4 separate regions of the Homo sapiens genome follow, and regions 1, 2 and 4 are each reported to be linked to region 3. Evidence: microRNA targets listed by miRTarBase, many of them from high-throughput screens and not tested one by one. Region 3 holds a microRNA gene; each other region holds the end of a gene's coding sequence.

Region 1 (7,948 bases), not on the chromosome of region 3:
TATTAACTATAGTCACCATACTGTGCAACGGAACACTAGAACTTATTCTTCCTAACTGTAACTTTATACCCATTGACCAATGTCTCCCCTTTTCCCTGTCAACCTCCCTCTACCCCCACCGTGTATCTGGCAACTCCCTTTCTATTCTCTACTTCTATGTTTGACTTTCTTAGATTCTACATACAAGTGAGATCATATGGTATTTGTCTCTCTATGCCTGGCTTATTTCACTTAACATAATGTTCTCTAAGTTCATTCAGGTTGTCATGAGTGACAGAATGTCCTGTTTTTGATTTAAAGCTGAATAGTATCCATTGTGTAAATGTACCACATTTTAAAAATCCATTCATCCGTTGATGGGCACTCAGGTTGTTTCCATATCTTGGCTATTGTGAACAGTGCTGCAATGAACATGTGAGTGCACATATCTCTTTGGCATACTGATTTCTTTCTTTTTGGAGACAGAGACTCGCTCTGTCACCCAGGCTGAAGTGCAGTGACACCATCTCGGCTCATTGCAACCTCTGCCTCCAGGGTTCAAGCGATTCTCATGCCTCAGCCACCCGAATAGCTGGGATTACAGGCGTGCAACACCGCGCCCAGCTAATTTTTGTATTTTTAGTAGAGACAGGTTTTCACCAGGTTGGCCAAGCTGGTTTGGAACTCCTGGCCTCCAGTGATCCACCCTTCTTGGCCTCCCAAAGTGCTGGGATTGCAGGTGTGAACCACCATGCCCCGCCCAGCATACTGATTTCAATTCCTTTGGGTATATACCCAGTAGTGGAATTGCTGGATCATATCTGGCTGTTTTGTTTTCACGATTCTGTCTTTCATGTTCTATAGTTTCACTATAGTTTATCTAGCAATGGATATGCTTTTCTTTTATTTTTTTGAGATGGAGTTTTGCTCTTGTTGCCTGGGCTGGAGTGCAATGGTGCAATCTTGGCTCACCATAACCTCCGCCTCCCGGGTACAAGCAATTCTCCTGCCTCAGCCTCCCGAGTAGCTGGGATTACAGGCATGCGCCACCACGCCTGGCTAATTTTGTATTTTTAGTAGAGACGGGGTTTCTCCATGTTGGTCAGGCTGGTCTCGAACTCCTGACCTCAGGTGATCTGCCCACCACGGCCTCCCAAAGTGCTGGAATTACAGGCGTGAGCCACTGCGCCCGGCCAGATATATTTTCTTTATCCCCAGTACGTTTCTTCAGTTAGACGATTCTTTTTCTTTCTTTTTTTTTTTTGAGATAAGGTCTCATTCTGTCACCCAGGCTGGAGTGCGGTGGTGCGATCACAGCTCACTGCATCCCCAACCTCCTGGCCTCAAGTGATCGTCCCACCTCAGCCTCCTGAATACCTGGGATACATGCATGTGCCACCATGCCTGGCTAATTTTTTATTTCTTTTGTAGAGACAGGGTTTCACCATGTTGCCCATGCTGGTCTAAAACTCCTGAGCTCAAGTGATCCACCCAACTTGGCCTCCCAAAGTGCTGGGATTACAGGTATAAGCCACCACACTGGCACGTATCTTTCATTCTGGAAAATTCTCAGTCTTTGCATCTTCCATATTGTGTGCCACCCATTCCTTCTATTTTAACCTGCAGGAACTTCTCTCAGACACATGTTGGACCTGCTCATTCTCTCTGGTCTCTTCTCTTCCATAGGTCCTATTTATACCTCTTTGTGCTGCAATCTAATGGACCGCATTGGTTTCCACAAGGCTCTGGAACTTTCACCAGTCTGGGTCAATCTTTATGTTAATTTTTCAGCTTGTGGCCCTTCAGCATGCTGGTAACAAAAATTCAGGCTACACACGTCTATCTGTATGTGGCCCAGGCTTGGGGATTTTTCATGGATGTCTTTTTCGCCCTATCCATTTCCCTGGTCAAACACCACATTTCCCTGCGGCCGCCCCAGCATGATTGGCAGGGGTTCTCTAGTCCCCTTCCAGCTTCCAGCTCTCTTCATGCAGGAGACTCAGCTGTAGCAATCCTGCACTTCGCAGGGGCTCAGGCTGTGTATGTCCTGGCCCTACCTGGAATGAAACCAGAATCCTGGGAGCTGTGCTAGTACCACTCAGCTTCCCTTTCCTTCTTGTAACAAATATTAACCTTCTCCCCTCCCCCACTCCCCTCTCCTTTCTTCCCTGGTAAGTTTGTTATAGCTGATAAACCTACACTGACATATTACCCAGAGTCCATAGTTTACATCAGGGTTCACTCTTAGTGTACATTCCGTGGGATCAGACAGATTCATAATGACATGTATTCACCATTACAGCATCACAGTGAATAGCTCCGCTGCCCTAAAAATCCTTTGTTTCTGCCCATTCATCTCTCGTCTCTCTCTCCACAACTGCTGATCCTTTTTTCTCCGAGACGGAGTTTTTCTCTTGTCGCCCAGGCTGGAGTGCAATGGCGTGATCTCAGCTCACTACAACCTCTGCCTCCTGCCTCAAGCGATTCTCCTGCCTCAGCTTCCCGAGTAGCTGGGATTACAGGTGCCCACCACCACACCCAGCTAATTTTTGTACTTTTAATAGAGACGGGGTTTTACCATGTTGGCCAGGCTGGTCTCGAACTCCTGACCTCATGATCCACCCACCTCGGCCTCCCAAAGTGCTGGGACTGCAGGTGTGAGCCACTGCGCCCGACCAAACTGCTGATCCTTTCACTATCTCCACGGTTTTGCCTTTTCCGGAATGTTATACGTTGGAGTCATATATAGCCTTTCCAGATTGGCTTTTTCCAATTTAGTAATATACATTAAAGTTCCTCTGTGTCTTTCCATGACTTGATAGCTCATTTCCTTTTAGTGCTGAATAATATTCCACTGTCCAGGTGCAGTTTGTCCATTCACCTACTGAAGCACATCTTGGATGCTTCCAAGTTTTGGAAACGATGAATACAGCTGCTATGAATGTCCGTGTGCAGGCTTTTGTGTGGACATGAGTTTTCATCCCCTTTGGGTAAACACCAAGGAGTATGACTGCTGCTCCATATGATAAGATTATGTATGTGGTTTTGTAATCCTGTTTAATTTTATTAAGAACTCTCTTCTCAAGTGGCTGTACCAGTTCCTGCAGCTCTGCAACCTCACCAGCATATGGCGTGGTTAAGTGTTGTGGATTTTGGCTATTCTACCAGGTATGGAATGGGTGCCTTGTTTTAATTTGTGGTTCCCTAAGGAGATATAATGTGGAGCATCTTTTCATACGTTTATTTACCATCTGTGCATCTTTGGCGATGTCTGTACAGGTCTATTGCCGATTTTTAAAAAAACTGACTAGTTTCTTTATTAAGTTTAAAGAGTTCTTTGTATATTTTGGATAACAATCCTTGATCAGATGTGTATTCTGCAAATATTTTCTTTCAGTCTGTGGCTTTTCTTCTCAAGCTCTTGATGTTCCTCATTTTTTGAAAAAAAGAAAACTCTAGGCAGGAAAAGTTACTAAGTAACTCAGCTAGCCATAGAGCCAGAAAGAAAAAACAGGGTCTTCTCTAATAATCCCAAACCTCTAGAGAAATTAATTTCAGGCCCAAATTTTAAGGTTTTAAAATATATAGTCATTTCTAAAATTCCTTTTTCACATCATTCAACAAAATGCTGCCCAAGTAAAAAGGACCCTGTCACACCGTACAGCAGTCCCTCCTTTCCATGGTTTCATTTTCTGAGGTTTCAGTTGCCCTTGGTCAGCCAAAGTCCAAAACTATTAAATGGAAAATTCCAGAAATTCATGTTATAAATTGCAAACTGTTCTGAGTAGTGTGATGAAACTTCACGTTGTCCCACTCCATCCCCCGTGAACATGAATCATGTCTGTCCAGAGTATCCACACCGGTGATGCTACACATTAGTCACTTAATAGACATCCTGAGTTTCAGATTCAAATAACATAGTACCGTATAGGATTCAGTACTATCTGAGGTTTCAGGCAACTGCTGGGGGTATTCAAATGTATTCCCCATGGATAAGAGACTACTGCACAGAAATGAGGTTCTTTCTAGAATGAGTTCAGGAAGCACAGAGTTTCTAAATAAATAGGGAAACTGTAGTATTCTAAAGAAATGCAGTGCTTAAGTGAGCAGCTAGGTGCTTTGGGAAGGTACTTAAAATTTTATTTTTAATTTTTTGGATACATAGTAGTGGTACATATTTATAGTATACATGTGATATTCTGATACAAGCATATGATGTGTAAGAATCAAATCAGGGTAACTGGGCTATCACTTCAAACATTTATCTTTTTTTTTTTTTTGAGACAGAATCTTGCTCTGTCACCCAGGCTGGAGTGAGTTGGCACAATCTCGGCTCACTGCAACCTCTGCCTCCTGGGTTCAAGCAATCCTCCTGCTTTAGTCTCCTGAGTAGCTGGGACTATAGGCACACACCACCAAGCCTGGCCGATTTTTATATTTTGTAGAGTCAAGGTCTTCCCATGTTGCCCAGCTGGTCTTGAAGTCCTGAGCTCAAATGATCCACCTACCTCAGCCTCCCAAAGTGCTGGGATTATAGGTGTGAGCCACGGCACCCGGCTCATTTATCATTTCTTTGTGTTAGGAACATTCCAATTCCACTCCTCTATTTTGAAATGTACAATAAATTTTTGTTAACTATAGTTGCTCTACTGTGCCACTGAACTACTAGATCTTATTCCTTCTAATGGGATTTTTGTACCCAGGGAAGGTATTTCAATGGTGACAGACACCCCGTGAGGTATATGTAAAAAAGGGCAAGCGTTAAAATAGTGGAGCGGTGGGGAGGCTGCCCTTGCAAGTGGACACACTCTGGCTCTCACTTAGGGTAAAAGAAATTGTCTGATGGGAGAAAGAGAGCTAAAAACCACACACAGACACACACACACACACACACACACACACACACACACACACACAAAGTGCCTCATCTGTCTGAGAAGTGAGGTGGCTACTGTTTTTTTCAATAAGTCTTCTTACCCAGCTGATGATGAAATTACCTGGCTACTAACACTGGAGTTGCAACTTACAAGCAGAGTAATGAGTGTTTCTAGGAAGTGCTGCAGCTCTCTGAAGAAAAAGAGTTACATCAATATAATAATAAATAAACAACATTATTTCAAACACAACTACAAATTTATACAAAGTTGTTTTTATTTCCCACCCCATGACCCAATCATTTGGCATTAAAACCGAAAAACGAGGCAAGAAAACCAAGAATAAAAAGTGAAGAAATTTTTGTATTATAATGTATTCAACCATTTGTTCTGATTATCTAAGAGAAAAAAAGTATTAGGAAATCCAACTTCAACAGAAAAATTCAAAACGCTTCCAAGGAAAATCAGAAAACTGATCTGCTTAGCCAGAGACCAGTGGTTCACAGTGTTTGATTCTGTGGTTTTTAAATTCCAGGTCCTTGTCTCACCCTAATGTCCCACACTCCAAATGAAACCAGCAGTGCACCAACAATACCCATCCCTCCTCAACCTCGGCTGGGCACCGCAACAAACCAAAAACATTCTTGGTTTTCTTGTTTTAAGGAAATCTTTTTTCTTTTTTTCTATATGCTAATCTTCTCTATATCATTTTAATTTTAGTATATGTGCTGCTGAAGTGAGCACATTTTACGGAGTTTTAAGCTAAAGTTTCTTTTCTCACACATTGTCATATAAAAGGGGTATTTCTGCTTTGTCCCCTCCCTGCCATCATACCAAAAAATAAATAAGTACATAAATACAAATTAGAAAAGCTTAAATAAGACCGGTTTTTAAAACCCAATAAAGCAAGATGAGACAGAACTAGGCCCGAAGGGACTGGGAGAAGATTCTAAAATGGAGAGGGGGGAAAAAAAACCAGAAAAAAACGGGTTTCCAAAAACACTGAAACCCATGGTATGTGATAACTTTCTAACCATCTGGACTTTGGTAGGAGTGTCACGTTTTCCAAAGCTGACTTCTGGAAATCTTAACCTGGATTCAGAAAAATTCCAGCAAAGTGAGCCAACAGCCAGGAAGCGGTTATTTTGCAAGAGAAAGGGGGTAATTCCATTTACAAACATATATAAATAGAAATAAAGGCCACACACCTGGGAGAAAAGTTCACTAAAAACTCCCACCCCAACTTGAACTTTCCTAGCTGCTAGATTTTTTCTGCCTGTTAAAAAACTAAAAATTACTGAAGATCAGGCACAAAGAGCAAAAGAGCATGTGTATATTTGGGGAAGAAATCGTCATGGTATGCTGGAAAGTTACTGAAATCCACGGAAAAGGCTTCATCTGCACTCTTTCAAGAGGCCAAGGGAAGCCATTTTCGAATCCAACTCAAGTCACAGTCGTCATCAATTCAATCCCCAGAGAGGATTTAGTCAGCAAGGGCCGACCTATGCCACAAACTGATTTTACTACACGCCTTGCACACCTGCCAGTAATAGCAATATCTACTTGAAAACTTTGCTTCACAGACCTTCCACTGCCTTTCCCAGTTGCCTGAGTAATTCTCTTCAGGCAACTTGCAATGACTTAATTATCATCTCTGGCTCCAGAAATGGGAACCACTTAGTTGGCACAGCTTAGAAGTATAATGGCTGCTTCTGCTGGTTTCTGCAGCTCATGTTGGCTTTTTTTTTTTTTTTTTGAGACAGAGTCTTGCTTTGTCAACAGGCTGGAGTGCAGTGGCGTGATCTCGGCTCACTGCAACCTCCACCTCCCGGGTTCAAGCGATTCTCCTGCCTTAGCCTCCTGAGTAGCTGGGACTACAGGCGTGCACCGCCACACCCGGCTAATTTTTTTGTATTTTAGTAGAGACGGGGTTTCACCATGTTGGCCAGGATGGTCTTGATCTCCTGACCTCATGATCCACCCGCCTCGGCCTCCCAAAGTGCTTGGATTACAGGTGTGAACCACCGCACCCGGTCTGGAGGTCTTAATGGTCCCCCAGAGTCACCCGCTCCACCTGCAGAGTGGCAGTACCACCGTAACTTGCTCTACACAGGCAACAAGGCCATTTTCAGCTGTTACTCAGAAACTTGCTTCTTGGTGATATTAGGTTTAAAAGACAAGAAAGAAATCTTATTCTACAGGGTTGGAGAAAGGGAAAATTATAACACAAAAGCCCACTTCAGTCTCTGTTGATTCTGCAAGAGTCACAGCTGAGTTCTGAGGCCGCCTTTCTTCTCACCAGCCCATCTCCAAGCTGTGCAGTCACAGGAAGAACAGGTTCTCGCACAGCTGGATGGCTGGTTCATGATGCAAGATGTGTCCTGACAGGAAAGCTAGCTTGTGGGCATACTTGCAAGGAGCTGGAACTCTGATGGTGCCAGGCCAATTCCAGTACATGTGGCACAGTTTGAAAGTCAGCCTGTAGGCCAAGAAGAAAATATAATTCTCATCATCCCCCACCTTCAATTTGTGGCATGCAATACAATACAATAGTCACGGGGATATGACACAGAGCACACCTTCCTGAAAACTGGGGAGCAGAGGAATACATGATGCAGCTTTTTAGAATCACTATTTTTAAATGGACTTGTTTTTATTCCCACTATTCATAAGTCAGACGACATGGGTAAATCTTCTCAATTGAGGCATTTCCCTGTTTTTTTTTTGTTGTTGTTGTTTTTTGTTTTGTTTTTTTTTTTTGACAGAGTCTTGCTCTGTTGCCCAGGCTGGAGTGCAATGGCACAATCTCTGCTCACTGCAACCTCCTCCTCCTGGATTCAAGTGATTCTCCCAACTCAGCCTCCCGAGTAGCTGGGATTATAGGCATGCGCCACCACACCCAGCTAATTTTTCTATTTTTAGTAGAGACAGGGTTTTGCCATGTTGGTCAGGCTGGTCTCGAACTCCTGGCCTCAGGTGATCCGCCTGCCTCAGCCTCCCAAAGTGCTGGGATTATAGGCGTGAGCCACCGCACCCAGCCTCCTGTTTTTATACGAAAACAACACAAAGAGAAAATATTTCTTGTTTACAAGAAA
Region 2 (8,372 bases), not on the chromosome of region 3:
GGGAGGATCACTTGAGGCTAAGATGGGAGGATCACTTGAGCTTGTGAAGTCAAGGCTGCAGTGAGCCATGATTGCACCACTGCACTCTGGCATGGGTGACAAAGTGAGACCCTGTCTCAAGAGTAAAAAACAAGGCCTGGGGCAGTGGCTCAAGCCTGTAATCCCAGCACTTTGGGAGGCCAAGGTGGGCAGATCACCTGAGATCAGGAGTTCGAGACTAGCCTGGACAACATGGCAAAACCCCATCTCTACTAATAATATAAAAATTAGCCAGGCATAGTGGCACATGCTAGTCCCAGCTACTCAGAAGGCTGAGGCACGAAAATCACTTGAACCTGGGAGACAGAGGTTGCAGCGAGCTGAGATTGCACCACTATACTCCAGCCTGGGCAACAGAGACTTCGTCTCAAAAAAAGAAAAAAAAAAAAAAAAAGAACAAACAAACCTCTGTTAACAATAGAAGATTTGGCCAGGTATGGTGGCTCACACCTGTAATCCCAGCACTTTGGGAGGCTGAGGCAGTCAGATCACCTGAGGTCAGGAGTTCAAGATCAGCCTGGCCACCATGGTGAAACTCCGACTCTGCTAAAAACACAAAAATTAGCCGGGCGTGGTTGTGAGCACCTGCAATCCCAGCTACTTGGGAGGCTGAGGCAGGAGAATCGCTAGAACCCGGGAGGTGGAGGTTGCAGTGAGCCAAGATGGCACCACTGCACTCCAGCCTGGGCAATAGAGTGAGACTCCATCTCAAAACAAAAAAAAACAAAAAACAAAAAACAATAGAACATTATAAAATTGTTATTGCTCTATGATGTTTATCATTATCTGTTCTAGATTCTAATACTCCTACTTTTACTTTCTGGGTTCTTGTTTTATCCTGAATTTACACTGAAATTTTGTTTTTGTTGTTGGCCCCAGATTTGTTAATTTTATGTTGTTCTTTTTGTATTGGTACTTCCCTTATCTCAGGCACTTTAATTGGAATTTTAGTGGAATTAATATGAAAAAAAGAGCTCCATCTAACACCATAAACTACAAAGACCTAAAGAGAAGCATTTTCATTATTTTTTTTTTCCGTTTAGGTGGAGGGTTGATCTCGCATTGTACTAATTGAGTAAATTGAATGTGAAAAAGGTGTTGAGAGTTGAGCCATCTAGGTGTGAAGAGACAAGAACACATTAAGCACGTGTAAAGAAAAGCTCAGATTGAAGAGGTGGTTGGATTTTGTGGAAGCCAAAATCACTCCTCTGATAGGTCTTAGTTATAGGGTGATAATTTTAGGAACAAGAGACTTAAGGGAATTAAATACTGTGTAGAAAATGCCCTTCTCAGTGAAATAAAGAAAAGAAGATTAGAGAATATTTATATCCTAGTGACCACAAAAATAACATAAACAAAGAGAAATGGGCCAAAGGTCTTTTAAGTTATTCATACTTTGAATTTAGTTGCAAGATTCCCTTCCTATGTTTACTAATGTGGTGAGACCAAAGCTAGGATATGTAATAATTTAATCAATTAATCTTGTAAAGCATATTTACTATAAAGCTTATTTACTAAAAGAAACTGTATTTGTTCTAGTAAAGTACTCAAAAGAAATTGAATTTGATCATACTAGCTATGAATGATCTCACCAGCCCTGTGATAACCTGCCACACTGTAAATGAATTTGTAAACCTTGTGTTCAATTAATACATTACCATATATACTATGTGGAATTTGAGTGGCTATCTACTATTGGTGCAGAAAAAAATGAAAATATTTCCTCTGATTCATCCAAGCAGAGTGTGTGTCCTTTTTTTCCACAAGTGAGAGAAAGAATTAAAAGAAACAAAAAAAGGAATAAGAAGGAGAAGAATGGTAAGAAAAGCAATAAGAGAAGATATTTGAGACCGTGAAGCCTTCCGTGAAAGAAGGCTGCCAGTCCAGAATTAGAGCTCATGGTCTCTGGTCTTGGATTAATCAGGTACCATTTGCTTGAACTCTGAAGATACAGAGAAAAGAGATGGATTTCTTCAGTAATTAACAGTTTGACAAGACTTCTAATTTTGATACTAAGCTAGATAACAGTTAGTTCTTAGGATAAAAGTAGAGACCATTCTAGTCATATAGAGAGAAAACATCAAGCCAAGTGGGAAGGAGATGGACTTAAAGGATGGAAAGATACAATTTAGCTTCAGACTGATGGAAGGTAGAATTTCTAAATAACTATAATTATTGATTGGTTCATAGTTTGTTCCTCAAGAAAGAATAACAACTTTAATAACATGGGTATACTTTACTCAAAACTTCTTTTTTTTTTTTTTTGAGACAGAGTCTCACTCTGTTGCCCAGGCTGGAGTGCAGTGGCTCACTGTAAGCTCTGCCTCCCAGGTTCACGCCATTCTCCTGCCTCAGCCTCCCGAGTATCTGGGACTACAGGCGCCCGCCACCACGCCCAGCTAATTTTTTTTCTATTTTTAGTAGAGACGGGGTTTCACTGTGTTAGCCAGGATGGTCTCAAACTCCTGACCTTGTGATCCACCCGCCTCGGCCTCCCAAAGTGCTGGGATTACAGGCATAAGCCACCACGCCCGGCCCACTGTAGTCAAAGCTTCTGTGTCTTACTCCTGAAGTAAGGGTACAGCAAAATAAACTGGGGAACAACATCCTTGAGTAACAACATTGGAGGAGGCAACAAGTCAGCAGCAGACATTGTAAATAAGAGTCCACCTAACCTAAGTAAAAGGGTCTTTTCTTTTTGAGATAGGGTTTTGCTCTGTGATCCAGGCTGGAATGCAGTGGCAGGATCATAGCTCACTGCATCCTTGACCCCCTGGTTCCAAGCAATCCTCCCACCTCAGCCTCCCAGGCAGCTGGAACCACAGGCATGCGCCACCATGCTGGGCTAATTTTTTTATTTTTGTAGAGATGGGGTCTCCCTATGTTGCCCAGGCTAGGAGTCCTTTCTTGTTCTAACATGGCTCACTAGAATTCTGCACTGGTATTGAGAACCAAGGCCCAGGCAGGAACTGCATTATTTAACCATACTTTGTTCTCTGGGACTATATTTCCTTCAGGCGTGCTACAAATTGCAGCAATAGAGCATTTTAACTGTCTTGTTGAAGGTAGACTAGGATCTTTGCATCTCATATTCTAACCTCATATTTATCAAAAATATAGGTACCTTATTTTGACATGACATGTAGGTAGAAACAGGCAATGAAATACGGTGCAACCATTAAAAATGATACGTAAAATATTTAATGACGAGGAAAATGATACACTGCAAGATGAAACTGATTATTAAACTATAAATAATGATGATTACATTTTTAAAAACTTTATAATTCTATATACATAAAATAGGGAAAGATATAAAGCAGAATATCTCTGCCATTAAAATTATGTTTACAGAAAAAATAAGAACACAAGAGAACAACTTGTAATGTTTAATGAAAAATGGTAGAAATATGGGATCTAATTAAACTAAAGAGCTTCTGTACAACAAAAGAAACTACCATCAGAGTGAACAGGCAACCTACAGAATGGGAGAAAATTTTTGCAATCTACTCATCTGACAAAGGGCTAATATCCAGAATCTACAATGAACTCAAACAAATATACAAGAAAAAAACAAAGAACCCCATCAAAAAGTGGGCAAAGGATATGAACGGACACTTCTCAAAAGAAGACATTTATGCAGCCAAAAAACACATGAAAAAATGCTCATCATCACTGGCCATCAGAGAAATGCAAATCAAAACAACAATGAGATACCATCCCACACCCGTTAGAATGGCAATCATTAAAAAGTTAGGAAGCAACAGGTGCTGGAGAGGATGTGGAGAAATAGGAACACTTTTACACTGTTGGTGGGACTGTAAACTAGTTCAACCATTGTGGAAGTCAGTGTGGCGATTCCTCGGGGATCTAGAACTAGAAATACCATTTGACCCAGCAATCCCATTACTGGGTATATACCCAAAGGATTATAAATCATGCTGCTGTAAAGACACATGCACACGTATGTTTATTGCGGCACTATTCACAATAGCAAAGACTTGGAACCAACCCAAATGTCCAACAATGATAGACTGGATTAAGAAAATGTGGCACATATACACCATGGAATACTATGCAGCCATAAAAAATGATGAGTTCATGTCCTTTGTAGGGACATGGATGAAGCTGGAAACCATCATTCTCAGCAAACTATCGCAAGGACAAAAAACCAAACACCACATGTTCTCACTCACAGGTGGGAATTGAACAATGAGAACACATGGACACAGGAAGGGGAACATCACACACCGGGGCCTGTTGTGGGGTGGGGAGAGGGGAGAGGGATAGCATTTGGAGATATACCTAATGCTAAATGATGAGTTACTGGGTGCAGCACACCAACATGGCACATGTTTACATATGTAACTAAACTGCACATTGTGCACATGTACCCTAAAACTTAAAGTATAATAAAAAAAGATTAAAAAAAGAAAAATGGTAGAAATAATATTATATGATTTGTGACAGAACAAAATGTGATTTTGACTTTGTTGAATTTGGACAGAGAAGAAACTGGAAGGGAGACATGAGAAATTGGCAGTGGTTTTCCCTTAGTGCTGGAATTATGAGTGAGTTTGGTGAGTTATTTTTCTTTATACTTTTCTGTTCTCTTTAAATGCGCATGTAATTTATTTATGATAATGTAAATACTTCTTAAATGTCTGTAACTCTTCAAAAGTGATGCTTCAGGATAAATGAGCTGCTAAGCATTTTAAGAATTTACGTAACTCTAATATACTGGAGGGAAGGGATGGATCTGAAAGGCTACCATCAGTAAGAGGAATAAAACTTGCTCTGTGTCCTCCAGAAGTCTGGACAGTGATCAGCAGGTAATAGACACAGAGGAACTGATTTCAACTTTTGAAAAAGAGTTTTCCACTAATTAACACTGTCCCACGGCGGAATAGGTTCCCTGAAGATGTTGAGTGCTGAAAGTGATCAAGCAGAGGCTAGAGGGCTTCTTGCCTGGGAGCAGGGGAGGGTTGGGGGAGAAGGACAAGAGGACAGTGGGGTAGGTGACCTCTAGCATCATTGTCACTGCTAATATTCTATCTGTGCATTCATTTGCTCATTCACACAGCTTCCAAGATGGCCCCCAATGATCCTTGCCAGTGGAGTATTCATGCCCTTGTGCAATTCCCTCCCAGACTGAACAAGCTGATCAAAATAATCAACAGGATACTCGTGGAAAAGATGGTGCATGACTTCAAACATAAAGATTTGGTAGCTTCTGCCTTGCTCTCTCTTGAGTTGCTCACTCTGGAGTAAGCCAACTGTTGTGTCATGAGGACACTCAAGCAGCCTGTGGAGAGGCCTGAGAGGAGAGGAACTGAGGACTGCCAATACCTGACAGAAACGTGCCAGGTATGTGAGTGATTCACCTTGGAAATAGACCTCCAGCCCAGACAAGCCTTCAAACGACCACATCCCCTGACATCTTGTCTGTAACTTCAGAGAGACCCTAGCAGAATGATCCAGGTAAGCCATGCCTGAATTCCTGACCCATAAAGACTGTGTGGGATTAAGTCACTAAAATTGGGGGTAATTTTTTAATATTAGATAACAATGCGATACATTTTTACCTGAAATGTAAACAGGTAAAATCTGTTATGATTTGTTCCATAACAGAGTTAATATTCTGTGATTCAGTCATTTCAGCTGAACTATTGACAAGTTTTCCTTAATAAGGCAAAATCCCCAACTGTGATAGATGCATAACGGTAGCCGCTCCACTTAAGCAGTACAGTTTAACCCGCCACCATTCGATGTCTTAACATGTTCCAAGAAGAACAATGTCATCTTGGTTTTAAGGTGATGCATCTTGTTTTTTTCTGATAGAAAAAGAATAATGTGCTTTTTATTCTCCTAGAGATTTGGTGTCTGTGAATGGTTGTAGCTCTGTGACATTTACCATACATTTCTCAGCTTCCACCCATCAATTTGCTGAGAAAAAAAGGTATGCTACAAATCGCAGCAATAGAGCACTTTAAAAAGGTAATTTTCAGCATTTTGGCACCTAAAAGGGAAACTTTCATCTGCTTACACAGGCCAGAAGCAAAGACAAAGATTGCATGTTGTTCTTACAGATGACTTAAATCATCTCTTTGATGATAAAAATATTTTTAAGCCGTGAAAGTTATGAGATATTCTGGGTAAGCCTGATTATCAAAGAATACCACAAATAGCTTTGGAGATCGTGTATTGTTTGTCACTGAGTCAAAGAGATCTGTGGGATTGTGAGGATTCTTGGGTGGAGGGGTGACTAATCCTGCACGTCCCTTTGTGAAGACTCCAGTAAGTACTCGCACAACGTACATGTGCTTTCTCCCATTGCTGTCTGGCTTGGAGTAGGTGTCCTTGGCAGAATAACTGGCATCCACAGCAAAATAGGTTCCTTTTCCATAGGATACAGCTGGAAAGAGAAAGACAAAAACCTTCCTAAGAATATAAAATTACACAATGTGTAGAACCATGCCCAATCTGACAAAATTGTTTTCTAAATGCAGTTTTAGCCAGGTGTGTTGGCTCATGCCTGTAATCCCAACACTTTGGGAGGCTGAGGCAAGAGGATTGCTTAAGGCCAGGAGTTCGAGACCAGCCTGGCTAGCATTATGAGACCCCTTCTCTACAAAAATAAAACAAAATTATTAGCCAGGCATAGTGGTGCATGCCTGTAATCCCAGCTACTCAGGGGACTGAGGTGGGGGCATCATTTGAGCTCAAGAGATCAAGGCTGCAGTGAGCCATGATCTTGCCACTGCACTCCAGTTTGGGTGACAGAATGAGACCGTCTAAAAAAAAAAGCCCATTAAAAAAAAAACTGCACGTTAAAGTTATTTTTCATCATTTCTAAAATTCACTCCATCTTCCCTTAGAAGGTTGCCAGTCTCCTTTACAGTGAAACACAGTGAGCTCTATTCTGACAGTGATAATACAGCTGCCCACCATGGTTCCACACTGCTTGGGTATGAAAAGTCTGAGACTATTGTTTGCCTTATTCTGATCAGCCAAATTACTTGCTTCCTTACCATTTTTCCCAGCACAACTTCTATTAAAGCCGTGCTGATTGACATATGGCACTGAGTCTGCATCTGTCCCATGGAAGAGGAGTCTCTCATTATTCTTATGGTCATTCTTGATATCCATTTGCCTTTTCTTTACCTGGTAGCTCTGCCAGAGAAATGCATTCTGTATCCTCTCAATCTGCAGGTAACAAAAGACAAAATATTTCAGAAAGGACCTTGGGGCTCAGTATATTGTACTTGTTGTGGATTTAAAATAAGCAATATGAAAAAGAAGGAAGAGGAAGAGAATTTGGTGAAGGAAAAGGAGAAGAAAATACAAATAGACAGCAAATTCAGAGAGTAGGCAGCTTTCTGCCTTTAGAGAAAGATGGGCTAAAAGTATCTATTAGTGTCTATGCTTTGTAATAGTGCTTGTTGGTATATATTTTAAATAACATAATTTGCGGTTTATATCTAAATGATTACCAACATATATTCCCTGGAATTCCTGGAGATTCACTGACATTCAAACACCTACTCAAAAATTTGTAGTCATTCAATAGCCATGTCCTTAACTCCTCATCTTCCAACTCATTCCATGTGGCTTCTCCTCATAACAATTCTTTCTGTTATTGCTCCAATTATGGTCACAGATCACCTCATAATTGCCTAATCTTATGACTATTTTTTTCTAGACCTCTGAATAGCATTTCAAACCACGAGCCATCCCCTTCTTAAAACTCTGCTCTTCTTTCACTTCTTTTCAAAATATCACCCTCTACTGGTTCTCCTTCCTCCTAGGAAATGGAGTTAACATCCATTCAGTCATCACCTACTGAACATCTCTATGAATCAAGTTTGTGTTGGGTCTCTGTCCTCATGAAACATTCAGTCTAATGGCATGGGGGTGGTGGGCAAGACAAGAAAACTAATCACTACTGCTCAGAGTGATAAGGGATGGTCAGGAGAACACACAAGGGGCTATGAAAATATAGGAAGGGGCTCCAGATAACCTGTGTCTGGGGAAGGAGGAGGAAATCTGAGAGGATGATGTTCTGGAAACAGAGGAAGAAGAGAGGTTCAAGAAGAATGGAGTGAGTACCTGGGCAGCTGTTGAGGAGAATCCAAGCCATAAAAGCAGGTGAGAAAGTTGTTCTGCTGAAAGTAGTGGAGGCCTCCGGGAGAGTAACGAAGGTTTGCAATGGGGAATGTGTGAGGGGGTTGACTGGAGGAAGCAATGAAGGATTCCAGGAAGCCTGGAGGGTCCAGCTGAGGCTGGGGACCATGAATTAGTAAGGATTTCATCTAAGAGCAGCAGCAGAGAAG
Region 3 (5,000 bases):
ATCGTAACCAATTTAAGCCACTGTCAAGAAAGAATAAGAAATGCCCCATTAAAGATATGTGTCAATTGTAAGGTGCACCCTGACTTCAGAAATGTGGGAAAAAGACAGATTCAATGACGTATCATTTCTGGAGATCTCTCCTCTGGAACCGAAACTAGACTTGCTCTATGTGCTACCTGAGAGCACAGTGGGGATTCTAAGAGAAAGTAGTAGGGAGCTTTGTTTAAGGCAAACTTTTCTATTGTCCTGAGTTGTGTGAGAATTGTGTTAACTGCTGCATGATGTGAGGACCTAGCTCCCCTTGCTCACGGTAATCAAGCAGGGCATGACTGACTTCTCATTTGGGATCATTAGGCTTGGTAACCTCTGAGTTCCCTTCTAGTTCTGACATTGGAAGAGTCTTTGAGCAGAGAGAAGGGACCTCATCTGACTCCTGCTTCCTGGTCTAGTGCTCAATGCATTCCACCACATTGCCTTTAGGATTCTAGGTTAGGGAGTGGCAAACAATATGTTTGCATGTGAATGTCCTTTTTCTGTTCATCCCCAAGTATGTGCTTTTCTGTCCTTCCCACCAGGAATACACCATTGACATCATCTTCTCCCAGACCTGGTACGACGAACGCCTCTGTTACAACGACACCTTTGAGTCTCTTGTTCTGAATGGCAATGTGGTGAGCCAGCTATGGATCCCGGACACCTTTTTTAGGAATTCTAAGAGGACCCACGAGCATGAGATCACCATGCCCAACCAGATGGTCCGCATCTACAAGGATGGCAAGGTGTTGTACACAATTAGGTATGTCAAGCCTCTGGAGTCTCACTTCCTGGAATTCTCTCTCCCCTTCTGATAATTTTAGCTAAAGATCCATGGGCAGAGATCTCATCCTGAATGATACCTCTAAGGGCCTGTCCAGCTTTCCTAGACCATGAGCTCAGCCCCCTTATGTAACAGATATAGAGGCCTCAAAATAGAAAGATATTGCTTAAAGCCACACACCAAGTTTGTGGCAGAGCTGGAACTGGTACTCAGTTACTTGGCTCCGAGTCCAGAGCTCCCTCAACTAGGATGTGCCAGTATGACTGCATTATCTAGACAATTCCATCCTACGTGGGCACTCGATACAAAGATACGTCCACAGTGGTGGAATTGTTCAGGCAGAGCAGCAGCACGGTAGTGGCAAAGGTACCTAAGATCAAGTTGGATACTTGAATTCCCAGCAGGGGAAGGTTGTGTGTGGGGGATAGCAGGGAGGATGTTGGCAGGTCCTGGAAACTAGGCTGGGCGAGAAAACAAAAGCCGATCGAAGTTGCTCCATACGTTTCTCTAATGATGGAGCCCAGAGTAACCAGATACTTCTAAGCTGTTTGTTTGTTTTGTTTTGTTTTGTTTTGTTTTGTTTTGTTTTGTTTTCTCTCTTGTTATCTCTCCTTTGAGCTTTTTGTCTTAAATTCTAGCGAGGTCCAGGCACGGTGGCTCACGCCTGTGATCCCAGCACTTTGTGAGGCTGAGGCAGGCAGATCACTTGAGGTCAGGAGTTCGAGACCAGCCTGGCCATCATGGGAAAACCCTGTCTCCACTAAAAATGCAAAAATTAGCAGGGTGTGCTGGCACTAATTCCAGCTACTCGGGAGGCTAGGGCATGAGAATTGCTTGAGCCTGGGAGGCAAGAGGCTGCAGTGAGCTGACATCACGCCACTGCCCTCCAGCCTGGGTGACAGAGTGAGACTCTGTCTCAAACAAACAAAGAAAAAAATTGACTCTGGCCATTCATTGGTGGTAGTCCCTAGACCAAAGCTGGGTGGATACGGAAGTGCTTAGGGCCAGCCTGATGAGGCTCCTTTCTCCCTTCCAGGATGACCATTGATGCCGGATGCTCACTCCACATGCTCAGATTTCCAATGGATTCTCACTCTTGCCCTCTATCTTTCTCTAGCTGTGAGTACCTTCTTAAGTTTCTGGGGCCCCAGAAACATGCTGGGCTCCTTCTTTTTCTCATCCTTGCCATTTACATTTTTCTGCCTCTGCTTTTCTTCTAAAATGCTGCCAAGGTTGTGCAGGACTTCCATCCTCCACCCTCATTTCCTTTCCTGCCAACAATACTGTGTTGCTCATCCCTTCCACGTGCCTCTGAAGCGTATCTCAAGTATGTCTGCTCCTCTCCATCTCCACTGGCACTACCTTGGTTTAGGCCTTTGTTATCTTCCACCTGGACTTTTGCCACATCTTCACTTTGAAACTGCACATGTCCAAAATGAAATTCATTGTCTCCTCCAAACCTCTACCACCAAAACAAGTGTGTTGCTTCTGGGTTCCCATCTGTCTCATTGAAGAGGACCATCACTCACCCAGTTGCGCAAATCAAGAACTTTGATGTTCCCTCTCCCTCACCTCCTGCATCTAATCAATCAGCACATCCTGTTGGTGTTTCCTCCCAGTCTCTATCGATGCTGTCTATTTCTCTGCACCCTGTACAGCTTTGACTTCCACCTGCATTAATTTAATTCTGCCTGGATTACTACACTGGCCTCCTTGACAACATGTTGTCCTCACAGAAGGACCAGAGTGACCTAGCTGAAGGGTCACCTAGGTTGGGTCACTTCTTAGTCTCGAATCTGCCGTTAACTCTCATGGATCAATTTGAAATTCCTTAGAATGAACCTCAAGGCCATTCATGAACTGGACCCTGCCACCCAATCCTGTGCACCTCATCCTCTGTGAGCTAGCCATCCTGAACTTTTGTCCTTTCCACAATACACCAGGTGTTTCACCTTTCTATACTGCCCCTTAACCCCTTCAACCTCATTCTTATTGAGAATATTTACTTGAGTTTCAAGATTTAATGGGAATATCACCTGCTTTATGAAGTCTTTTCTGAGTATGTCCCCAAGTGACCTTTATCTACTTTGTTTCCCCGCTGTTCTGTGGACATAGGTTTTTCAGAGCTCCTCCAAAAATCACAGTAGTATACTCACTGTCTTATAAAATTAAATGTGATTGCTTGAGGGTAGGGTTCATGCCTTGCTCATCTCTGTATTTCTGGCCTAGGGCCTGATACTGAGGAATGCTCAGTAAACGCACTCATTGAATGGACTTCAACAATGAGGTAAGAGAGGCAAGGTCCCACAGCTGGTGAGGCCAGAGACAGGACTCCAAGGCATTGTGCAGGCTGACTTCATGCTATTGGAGACCTCAGGTGGGCTTCCAAGTCTCATAAGACCCTCTTTCTCACATTCCTTTCCAGTTTCCTATCCTGAGAATGAGATGATCTACAAGTGGGAAAATTTCAAGCTTGAAATCAATGAGAAGAACTCCTGGAAGCTCTTCCAGTTTGATTTTACAGGAGTGAGCAACAAAACTGAAATAATCACAACCCCAGTTGGTAAGCGTGCCAGGGCTTGGCGGAAGTCCAGGAAGGTGGTAGGGATGATTGGAGATGGCCATCCATACAAATGCTTTGCAGTCATCCCGTGCAAACATTGTAAGACATGGCTCCTGTCTTATAATTGCTAAGCACTTACAACTGTTTGCAGAGGAAACTGAGACTTTGTAACTATGTCTCAGTCTCATCTGCAAAGAAGTAAGTGCTTTGCCAAGCTCCTTGAGAGGTTAGGTAAGTAGATAAAGTTCTGCTGCTGTCGGAATGTGCAGCTGGCTTTTTCATGCAGACCCTTCAGTTTCGAGGTTACAACTCTGACCTCTTTGGATGACTTTGGGGAATGGAGCTCGTGTGAGTTCTCCATACCCAGAACCAATCCAGTCTGGTTGAATGGGAAGCAAAGTCCATTGTAGTGGGAGGTGGAGGCTAGAGTTCTAATGTCAGCTAGTTTAAGGCTGGGAAAGTCTGGAGGAAGTTACAGCAGCTACACTGGCTGCTGCATTGACATTTATCTTAAAGGAACAAGTCTGAAAAGCACAGATTCTTATCAAAGGCTTCATGGTGGATTCCACATAGACATAGTGGCCACTGGTTTTCTGACCTTTTCTCTGACAAAGACTAAAGGGGAAGGTCCTGGGTATCTTACACTTCAGCTCCCAATTAGATGTGAGCACCTTCACTTATGTTCCTAGGTGACCTGAATGAGGAGCCAAGGGACCTCCCCAGGGTAGCTCCCAGAGCAACCCTGGAAACACTCTTCACACATCCTGACCAAGTTCAGGGCAGTGAAGGCACTGCCCTCATCGTTTCCAGAATGTGGATGGAGCCAGTCACCCAACCAGCCATTTGTCGTGAGAGGCATCTTGTTCTGCTACCATGTGACTAGGCAGAAAATCTGCTTTTGTTTCATTTATTGAGTCAGTCTCTGGATGAGGGAAAGCTCATGCTCATGTGGCTAGAGCTTTGCTTGCACAGTATTAGGCAGGGGCAGAGGGCTGGGCTACCTTAAAAATACTTGCCCTTTTTCTTGGGGACTCTGGGGAAGCGGTTTTACTACCTTTGACTTGGGAGCCTTGCTCTTCTGCCAGCTAACCATGGGCCTGCCTCTTGGTTTTCTGCACCTCAGCTTTTCCCGGATAGGTGGGGACCCATCATCAAAAGTGACAGAGAAGATAAGGCCCAGGGGCTTTCAAGTCACTAGTGGTTCCGTTTAGTAGATGATTGTGCATTGTTTCAAAATGGTGCCCTAGTGACTACAAAGCCCCAGAGCCAGCATCATCATCAAAGCAATGACAGTAGGTAAGCACCAGACCTCCTTGGGAGTGAGGAGGATTCTTGAGGAGAAAAGAGGTCTTCTTTCTCCTCTGCTGGAGACTAGTTGATCTGGAGACGTGGTTCCTTCAATGTCAGAGTTATCTTTGGGACTGGTCTCAAACTCTTCCAGTTGGGCCCTGGGGCAGGTCTCTCCATCTGGAGCATACTTACGTGCTCGGCGATTAAGGGTTCAGAATGCAGTGGTAGCCTGCTACTCTGGCCATCTTGGACCTTGATCCAGAGAATCTCTGCTTCAGGAGCTTCTAAGAGAGTCCAGCCCTGCCTCCAGAGAGAGGCTTGCCCTTCACT
Region 4 (8,251 bases), not on the chromosome of region 3:
AGACCATGTCTGACCAGATCATTGGGAGAAATATCCTTTTTATCTGCAGTCGGCCTCCTGTGGGCCTTTGGAGCCTATTTGCCGGGCAGTGGTGGGGATAAATGAGTAGTTTTCAGGCTAGCTTCAGCCATTCACTTGTAGAATTTGAGCTTGGATTGTACTGTGTTTCTGAGAAGGACTGCGCCGAGAGCTAGGGGCAAAGCTGAGTTAGACTCCTGGCTCAAGGAGCATACGTCTACCAATCCTAATAGCTGGTGTGGTGGACCATGCACTGTGAACTAAGCGCTTTTGTGTGTGTCTTTTGATGCTCAGCATGACCTTATGAGTGGGTTGTAGTGTTATCATCTTTAGCAAATGAATAAATTGAGGTTTAGGGGTTCCATCACTAGTAAGGGTCAGGGCTGGAATCCGATGCGGGGTAGCCATGCCCCACAGTCCTGTACTCTTACCCACCAGCGTGTAACAGTGTCGAAAGAAAATTGGAAGACCAGTTTCCCTAAAGTCGTTGTGTTTAAGGCTGTAGTCTGCAGGGACGGGAGGAAAAAGGCTCAATGAGATGTTGGCACGCGTTGTCTTTAACTTCAGCACTTGATGATATGAGTAGTCGCATTGATGATCTGGAAAAGAATATCGCGGACCTCATGACACAGGCTGGGGTGGAAGAACTGGAAAGTGAAAACAAGATACCTGCCACGCAAAAGAGTTGAAGGTGAGGAAGGGGGCAATTTTTTTTTTCTTTTCTTTTCTTTTTTTTTTTTTTTTTTTTTTTGACACGGAGTTTTGCTCTTGTTGCCCAGGCTGGAGTGCAATGGCACGATCTCGGCTCCCTGCAACCTTTGCCCTCCTGGGTTCAAACGATTGTCCTGCCTCAGCCTCCCGAGTAGCTGGGATTACAGGCTTGTGCCACCACACCCAGCCAATTTTGTATTTTTAGTAGAGACGGGGTTTCTCCATGTTGGTCATGCTGGTCTCGAATTCTGACCTTGAGTGATTTGCCCGCCTCAGCCTCTCAAAGTGCTGGGATTACAGGTGTGAGCCGCCGTGCCCGGTCTTTTTTTTTATTTTGTCTTAAAAGAATAGAGAGAACCTGTAAGTATAATTTGTATGTAGTCAGACATTCTGTAGATCAGTTCCCAGCCATGATCCCAGCAAGCATCACTGTATTGTTTACCTGCTGTGGACTTGATGTTTTGAAATTTTTCATGCCAAACTCATTCTTTACACCGAATTTATTTTCCCAGTTTTTATTAATTAGACTTCTGTCACTATTAGTGAAGACCACTGGCTAACATTAGATAACCACTGAGTTTTTATCATTCCAGCTAATAATTAAGGTGTCTTTTTGTTGGCCTATAAAGCCTGTCACTGGAAGATTTTCCATTGCTTTTTTTTTTTTTTATGGAAATAACTGATAAGTCACCCACATTACCACCTTCTTAAATGGCTTAAATTCTGGAGACTTTCTTGGTAACTTGACATAGGTGAACTAGATTGTGGCCACATTAAGCTTTTACCCTGGAGTTCATTTAAATTTCCTCTGAATAGTTTCAGATGTCAGAGGAAAGCCTAGTAATTCAAAGTACCTACACAGCAAGATAGGTAAATGTACAGAATCACTCAGCAGAGTGCATGGTGATCCTTTTCCTCTGTATGTGTGAAAAATAAGTTTTAGACTCACTTTTCTCTTGTTTCATTTATAACATTTTAATTCTCTATAAAAATGAATGTTGCTGAGGGAGGCGGAGGTTGCAGTCGAGGTCACGCCACTGCACTCCAGCCTGGGCGACAGAGTGAGACTCTGTCTCAAAAAAAAAAAAAAAAAAAAAAAGGTACTGGTGCGTGGTGACTCATGCCTGTAATCCCAGCACTTTGGGAGGCAAAGGCAGGCAGAGGGCAGATCAGTTGATGTGAGGAGCTCGAGACCAACCTGGCCAACATGGTGAAACCCTGTCTGTACAAAAATTAGCTGGGTGTGGTGGTGCACGCCTGTAATCCCAGCTACTTGGCAGACTGAGACAGGAGGCAGAGTTTGCAGTGAGTCGTGATGATGCCACTGCACTCCAGCCTGGGAGACAGAGCAAGACTCTGTCTCAAAAAAATAAAATAAAATGGTTCCTGAGTATTTTTAGATTCGTAGAGTACTAAGCAGAATGTACAGTAAAACATGCCTAATTTCCTATTTTCTGGGCTTGCTGTGGACCACATTTTAAGTCACTGTGAAATACAGATTTGGGATGTTGAAGACAGACTCTAAAATTTGCTTTTATCTTCACAGTAGGTGGGGTTCATTCACTGTGTGAGTAAATCACATAACTGCTTTCTATGGGTTATGTCATCGTTATTCTTATCCAGAGATAATTTGGAAAAATGTCCTACCAGTCTCAGATGCTTCTGTGGGTCTCTTTTTATATTATGTGGCAATCAAAACTGCCATCAACTGACTGATTATCTTACCACAAGAATTTCAGGATGGTAGACTGGCTAGTGATGGGGGTCATTCAAAGAAAAGAGTGGGAGTAGGAAACTGACTCTGAAACTTTTAAAGATATTTCCAGTTAAATCTATTGCTAAAATATTGCCAGAAGAAAATAAGTTTAACTCAGTAGGAGAGTGGAAAGGGATTTGTAGTTGATAGGTCTATATGTCATTTTTACTTGTGCTCATATAATGAAAAACATGTTGATGATTTTTCCTTCTTCAACAGGTTGCTAATAATTTATACTGGAATCTGGCATTTTTCCAAGCCAAGAGAAGATCGAATGGCTTTTTGCAGCTAACTACTATGTGTAGACAGGTTTTATATTATAAAGTATGCATTCTTATCACCTAGTATATAGTTAGTTTGTAGAGTGATTTCCCCCCAGTTTCTTGAACATGGTATCTTCACATCTTGGACCTTGGTCAGTTGTGCTATTCATTATTAAACACTAAAACTTTGGCGGTTCTTGCATAACATTGTCAGATTTTTTAGTGTATTTCTGTGAAGTCATTTTTTTTCTTGTCATTCCTTTTGTAGTAGTTGCTGTTTGGATAAAAGTTGATGTGTGATTTTTTATTAAACAAATAGTAAACCCTTCAATTATAGTTAGTCTTGGTGAAGTAAGATGTTTGTAGACTTTAGAGTTCTTTAATTCTTGGCACAACGTGACTGTTGAGCTAACACCAAATAGTGTGTTGGCAATACTTTTCAAATGGCTGAAAACACCTAAAAATTGTTCATTCAGAAATATCTGTCACTGCTCTGTTGCCAAAACTCAGAATAGAACTTAGACGTATGTCTGAGTCCCTGAGATCACATGCTAAAGTCGATGAAAAGTAACCACTGCCACTGTCTTGTGTCAGAACTTTTACAGTACAGAAAATAACAGAATAGCCTTCTGTAATGAGGCGTTTGTTAGAGTTTTGCATGAGATTCTAATACTTCAGTAGGACCCTACCTACGTGGTTCATCTACAATGGTTACCATAAAAAATCTGGCAGGATTTTAAAACTCAATCAGTCTTTCCTTTGAGCTAGTGACTTGAAAAGAAAGAGAGAAGGAAAAGAGACCATATTAAGTCCATGCCAGTTGCTTGGCTAGAATATGATCAACGACTTGTAGTAGACTCAAGTTTTTAAAAAACACTATTTTACTTAAACTGTTTCTTATCTAAATTCTTGCAGAGTGTCAATGTTATCATTGATTATAGAAGACAGGGATAATACCTTTATCTCTGGCCACTCAAAAATGCAGTGCCAGGAGTGCTAAACCTAGAGGCCAATACTGATGACCTGGAAGGTGATCCATATGATTGTCACCACAAAGTGCTTTTACACAAAAACTTGAAAATTTGAAAAACATGATTTTTTTAAGTTTCTCATCTCACCAGTCTTGGTGTTTATATTGCAAATCTATCAAAGTAAGAAATAATTTGTGCTGTATACAAATTACATGGGGAACATAAAGGAGTGAGATCCTTCTGTGATAAAATGAATTCACCACTCTGGTTACCCAACTACAGAACCTCCTTTGATCAGGCCAGTAGGTTGTGATGCAGGCTGGAGCCCCCGAATGCCCCACACACACTGCAGCATTGACCAGACCATCCGAAACCTGCGTCCCTGGTGATGTTCTCAAGCCTCGGAAGTGGCAAATGGAAATGATATGGCCGGTTGCGGTTGTAGGAGAGTTGTGACTTAGGCAGGAGTCGACCTCCTCAAGTAATGGAACGATTTCAAAGGCAGGCTGCCCTGACCAAAAATATCTGCCATGAATAAAGGTGCCTGAAATCCTGCTATGAAGCTTCCTTTGTGTCAAAAATCTGTTTGGTTTTCAGATGGAAATGCAGAAATCACATTAGAGTATCAACTAAAACCTCTGGACGGATTAAGTACAAGTAGCCCAAGGCAAAGCAGGAGAGGGGGTGTTGGGGGAGGTTGCCTGCTGGAAGGGGAAGCTGAGGAGCGGGAGGAGGGCTTGCCAAGACTGGCATTGCAGGAGACTTGTCTCAGGTGTGTTCCCAGAACTCTTGCCCCTGGAGATGCTGCAGGAAGGAAGGGGTTATGGTCACTTGGGTTTAGACGACATTCTGTGAACCTCATGAAGAAATTAGCATATTAAAGACTCTGAAAGTAGAGCAGAGAACTCAGCTTTAACCTGCTCACCTGCTAGTTTTCGAGGTCTCGCTCTGTTGCCCAGGCTGGAGTGCAGTGGCACAGTCATAGCTCACTTGGAGCCTGAAGCTCCTGGGCTCAGGCAGTCCTCCTGCCTCAGCCTCCCAAGTAGCTAATATTACAGGTTCGTGCCACCGCACCTGGGTCTTGCTGTGTTGCCCAGGCTGGTCTAGAACTCCTAGGCTCAAGCAGTCCTGTCTCAGCCTCCCAAAGTGCTGGGATTACAGGCTGGAGCCACCATGCCTGTCCAAGGGTCTTTTTTATACTATATGAAGTATTCCTTCTCCAGCTATTCTTGTTCGTTTACCAGCCAGTGAAGATTCTCTTGAGGGCTGAACAATACAGATGAGTATGGGGGCCCTCGCACCAAGGAAAACAGCGTTACATTTAATTAAGTGCCCTGTCTCAAACCCCAAGGCCCCACAGCTTCTTCATTTGGCCCCTAGTTCATCCTGCTTTCCTTTGAGCCACAGGATTTTAAAATATTTCAATCTTATTTTCATATCAATTTTTTCTTTGTTTCACTACAAGTACAGTCATTGTTTAACCCTATCAGGACTAACACAATATTTCACGTAACTAAGAGTTAATTTGCCCTTGTGAGTCCTTGGAATTTAAGCCCCACACACACACACTTAGAGCACTGTTGCTATGGGAACATAGAGTCCTCCAAACAAAAGTGAACTTTTTCAACATGCTGTTTGTAAATGGAAGCCTTCCCAAGCAGACACTGTGTTCCTCTTTTATTTTGTATTTTGCACATTATATATTTTGATTAGATTAAAATGGAGGAATTTGCAGGATGTGTTGTCATATCTAGCCCTGAAAGTTAACTGGTTACAGTTACCAAATGTTCACAGCTAGCGCCATTGAAAGCATTGACTGTAAACCGCTGTACTGTGCTAAGCCTTTTGTTTGCACTGTTTGGCTTAATCCTCACAACAACACTGAGAGGTTTTCATTTGATGAGTCATATTTAAAGAAAAGGAACCCAAGACGGGGAGTCAGGGGCACAAGGTCACAGCTGGTAATGATGACCCTGGAATGTCCTCACAGCTGCACACCTGCACCGCTCACAAACACAGCTGACCGTCTCACAGCTGCACACCTGCACCGCTCACGAGCACAGCTGACCGTCTCACAGCTGCACACCTGCACTGCTCACGAACACAGCTGATCGTCTGCCTCTTCGTGTGAGCTGAGCTCCGAATCTCAGCTGTCCAGGCTGTCTGGAAATCATCAGCCCCACTGGCTGGATCTCAAAATTTACTTTCAAAAGGCTGATGGAGTGTTTTCAATTAAACATGACCTAAAATTAAGTAATAAACACACTGGATGTGAGTTTTTATTTGGAATTTAAACTATTCAGAGCTGGTAGAAAATGTGTGCTCCTGGATCAGTGCCTTTTTTCTCCTAAATCAGTTGAGAACAACAACAGAAACAAATGACATTCCTCAAACATTTGCCCAGAGCACAACCACGGGGAATATGAACCACAGGTTTTCACATTGGTTTTCCATGCCTATACCTGTCCTGTCTCCCACAAAAATTATTGCTTGAGGCCCAACCCGGGGGATAAAAAGACACCCCCCCGCCACTCCGTGACCTATTAGCTTACCATCCTATTGGATTTCACTGTTTTTTGTTTTGTGGTGTTTTTTTTTTATTGCAACGAAGACTTTTAAATGGACTCATGAAGAAGCCATCACCTGGAATCTTAATCTTGCATTAATTTTAAGTGTCTGATTTTAGCTGCAGCCACTTGAGAACTTTTCAATGAATGAAAATGAGGGAGGGGAGATGCAAGTCACTGCCCAAAAACAAAACCAGAGGAATTGTGATTGAACATTGCACTTATCAACCCTACAAATTAATATGGAAATAGGAAAAGGGTTTGTTTCAACAAGTCAGGATGACAGTATTTTAAAAAAGAAAAAAAGGCCAGCCTGGGCAATATACTGAGACTCCATCTCTACAAAAAAGTAGAAAAATTAGCCCAGAGTGTGGTGGCACACATCTGTGCTCCCAGCTACTCAGGAGGCTGAGGTGGGAGGATCATTTGAGCCCAGGAAGTCGAGGTTGCAGTGAGCTGTGATCGGACGACTCCACTCCAGCCGGGGTGACAGAGCAAGACCCTGTCTCAAAAAAAAAAAAAAAGGGCGGATCCTAACGCTTGGTCCTCACACCTGAGGCTCTCACTAAGAGGTGGCTGGAAGCTCCTCAGACCGCTGCCTAGGGTTCGAGTGATCCTGAAAGCTGTACAACATCAGCCTCTGTGGGATCCCTGAGAATGATGAAATGTAATATGTGGCTGTCTCATCAACAGAGCTTCATTTTACCAAAGCATATGTAGACACCACATACATGAACTACATACCTATCGTGTAGATGCTGCCCTGCCTCATAAGAACACTCTTGACTGTCCTGCTTCACAATAATAATCTTCGCAATAATGATCTAATAATGGTCAAATTCTGTGTCTCTACCGTAGAAAACAGAATTTGACCATTTAGTCACGTTGGTCTTGCAAAATGTCCACCTTCCAAAAGAGAACAGTATTGCTTCCCAATAATTAAGAATAGTCTGGATTCAGGATCCAGCAGCTTAGAAGCGTTTAGCTACCAATAGCAAAAATCAGCCCTTTTAACAATGGTGGGATGTATTATTTCACATGGCAAGAAGTCCCAAGGGAGGGCAGCTCTGGGGCGAGTAAATTCTGCACCTCAGTAAAACTAAGAGCAAGACCCGGCCGGGCGCAGTGGCTCATGCCTGTAATCCCAGCACTTTGGGAGGCCGAGGTGGGTGGATCACCTGAGGTCAGGAGTTCTAAACCAGCCTGGCCAACATGGCGAAACCCCCGTCTCTACTAAAAATACAAAAATTAGCCAGGCGTGGTGGTGGGCGCTTGTAATCCCAGTTGCTCGGGAGGCTGAGGGAGGAGGATCGCTTGAACTCAGGAGGTGGAAGTTGCAGTGAGCCGAGATCGTGCCACTGCACTCCAGCCTGGGTAACAGAGCGAGACTCCATCTCAAAAAATAAAAAACAAAAAAATAAATAAAAAATAAAAAGACCCAACCCCAGATTTGTTCCACCTGGGTGCATCCGGTCAGAGAATGCCTTTCTTCTTCCCTTTTGTCTCCTAAGAGTGAAGAAAATGTTTCTTTGAAGGTGTTTCCACCCCACTCCTGTGCCTAAAATGATCCTGGCAAACAGGACCCGCATGATAGGTTGAGCCATGTGGTTCTTGTTTTTTTGTTGTCACAACTCAGGTTGGGGGTGTTACTGGCATCAAGAGTGTAGAAACCAGGGATGCTGCGTCAACACCCTACCATGCACAGGACAACCCTCACCCCAAAGAGTGGCACAGCCCCAAGTGTCAACAGTGCTGAGGTTGAGGAATCCCAGCTTAACCCATTCATGAGACCACCTGAGCCTGGTGTAACGGTTCTGCTGATAGTTTCCGGACCCTCAGAGGTGGAGACATAAGAGAACAATACCAGGGTTCCATCAGAAAGGAAATCAGAATGGCTATCGGGTGGACAACCTACAGTGTTTGCTACAGACCTTCTAGATGTAACTTCTAGATTATAAACACTGG

Evidence for each region. Region 3 holds the annotated microRNA hsa-miR-452-3p (CUCAUCUGCAAAGAAGUAAGUG, at 3,564-3,585, shown strand). A microRNA usually pairs through its seed, bases 2 to 8, with sites in the 3' UTR of a target mRNA and lowers its output. Matches are read on the target gene's strand: a 7mer-m8 pairs with bases 2 to 8, a 7mer-A1 pairs with bases 2 to 7 and ends in A, and an 8mer does both.
Region 1: the mRNA of PIWIL2 is a reported target of hsa-miR-452-3p. Seed matches in the 3' UTR shown: 8mer at 6,247-6,254.
Region 2: the mRNA of PARP15 is a reported target of hsa-miR-452-3p. Seed matches in the 3' UTR shown: 8mer at 6,073-6,080 and 7mer-m8 at 3,550-3,556.
Region 4: the mRNA of HSBP1 is a reported target of hsa-miR-452-3p. Seed matches in the 3' UTR shown: 7mer-m8 at 4,996-5,002.

What each region holds. Positions count from the first base shown.
Region 1 is chr8:22,354,733-22,362,680 of GRCh38, reverse strand. PIWIL2 (piwi like RNA-mediated gene silencing 2) reads right to left here. Exons shown (of 23, transcript NM_018068.5): 23 at 5,113-7,332. The coding sequence ends at 7,176. Among named protein-coding and RNA genes, the nearest start is that of SLC39A14, 8.6 kb to the left of the region's middle.
Region 2 is chr3:122,633,893-122,642,264 of GRCh38, reverse strand. It overlaps PARP15 (poly(ADP-ribose) polymerase family member 15), which reads right to left. Exons shown (of 12, transcript NM_001113523.3): 11 at 7,071-7,245; 12 at 3,218-6,454. The coding sequence ends at 6,165. Among named protein-coding and RNA genes, the nearest start is that of PARP14, 43 kb to the left of the region's middle. RefSeq lists an enhancer at 5,973-7,172.
Region 3 is chrX:151,958,219-151,963,218 of GRCh38, reverse strand. MIR452 (microRNA 452) reads left to right here and starts at 3,507; the gene lies at 3,507-3,591. It overlaps GABRE (gamma-aminobutyric acid type A receptor subunit epsilon), which reads left to right. Exons shown (of 9, transcript NM_004961.4): 4 at 576-796; 5 at 1,854-1,936; 6 at 3,243-3,380. MIR224 (microRNA 224) reads left to right here and starts at 4,561; the gene lies at 4,561-4,641.
Region 4 is chr16:83,808,717-83,816,967 of GRCh38, forward strand. It overlaps HSBP1 (heat shock factor binding protein 1), which reads left to right. Exons shown (of 4, transcript NM_001537.4): 2 at 1-30; 3 at 589-709; 4 at 2,705-8,251. The coding sequence ends at 707. Among named protein-coding and RNA genes, the nearest start is that of HSBP1, 4.9 kb to the left of the region's middle. RefSeq lists enhancers at 4,212-4,723, 4,724-5,235, 5,236-5,747, 8,238-8,251.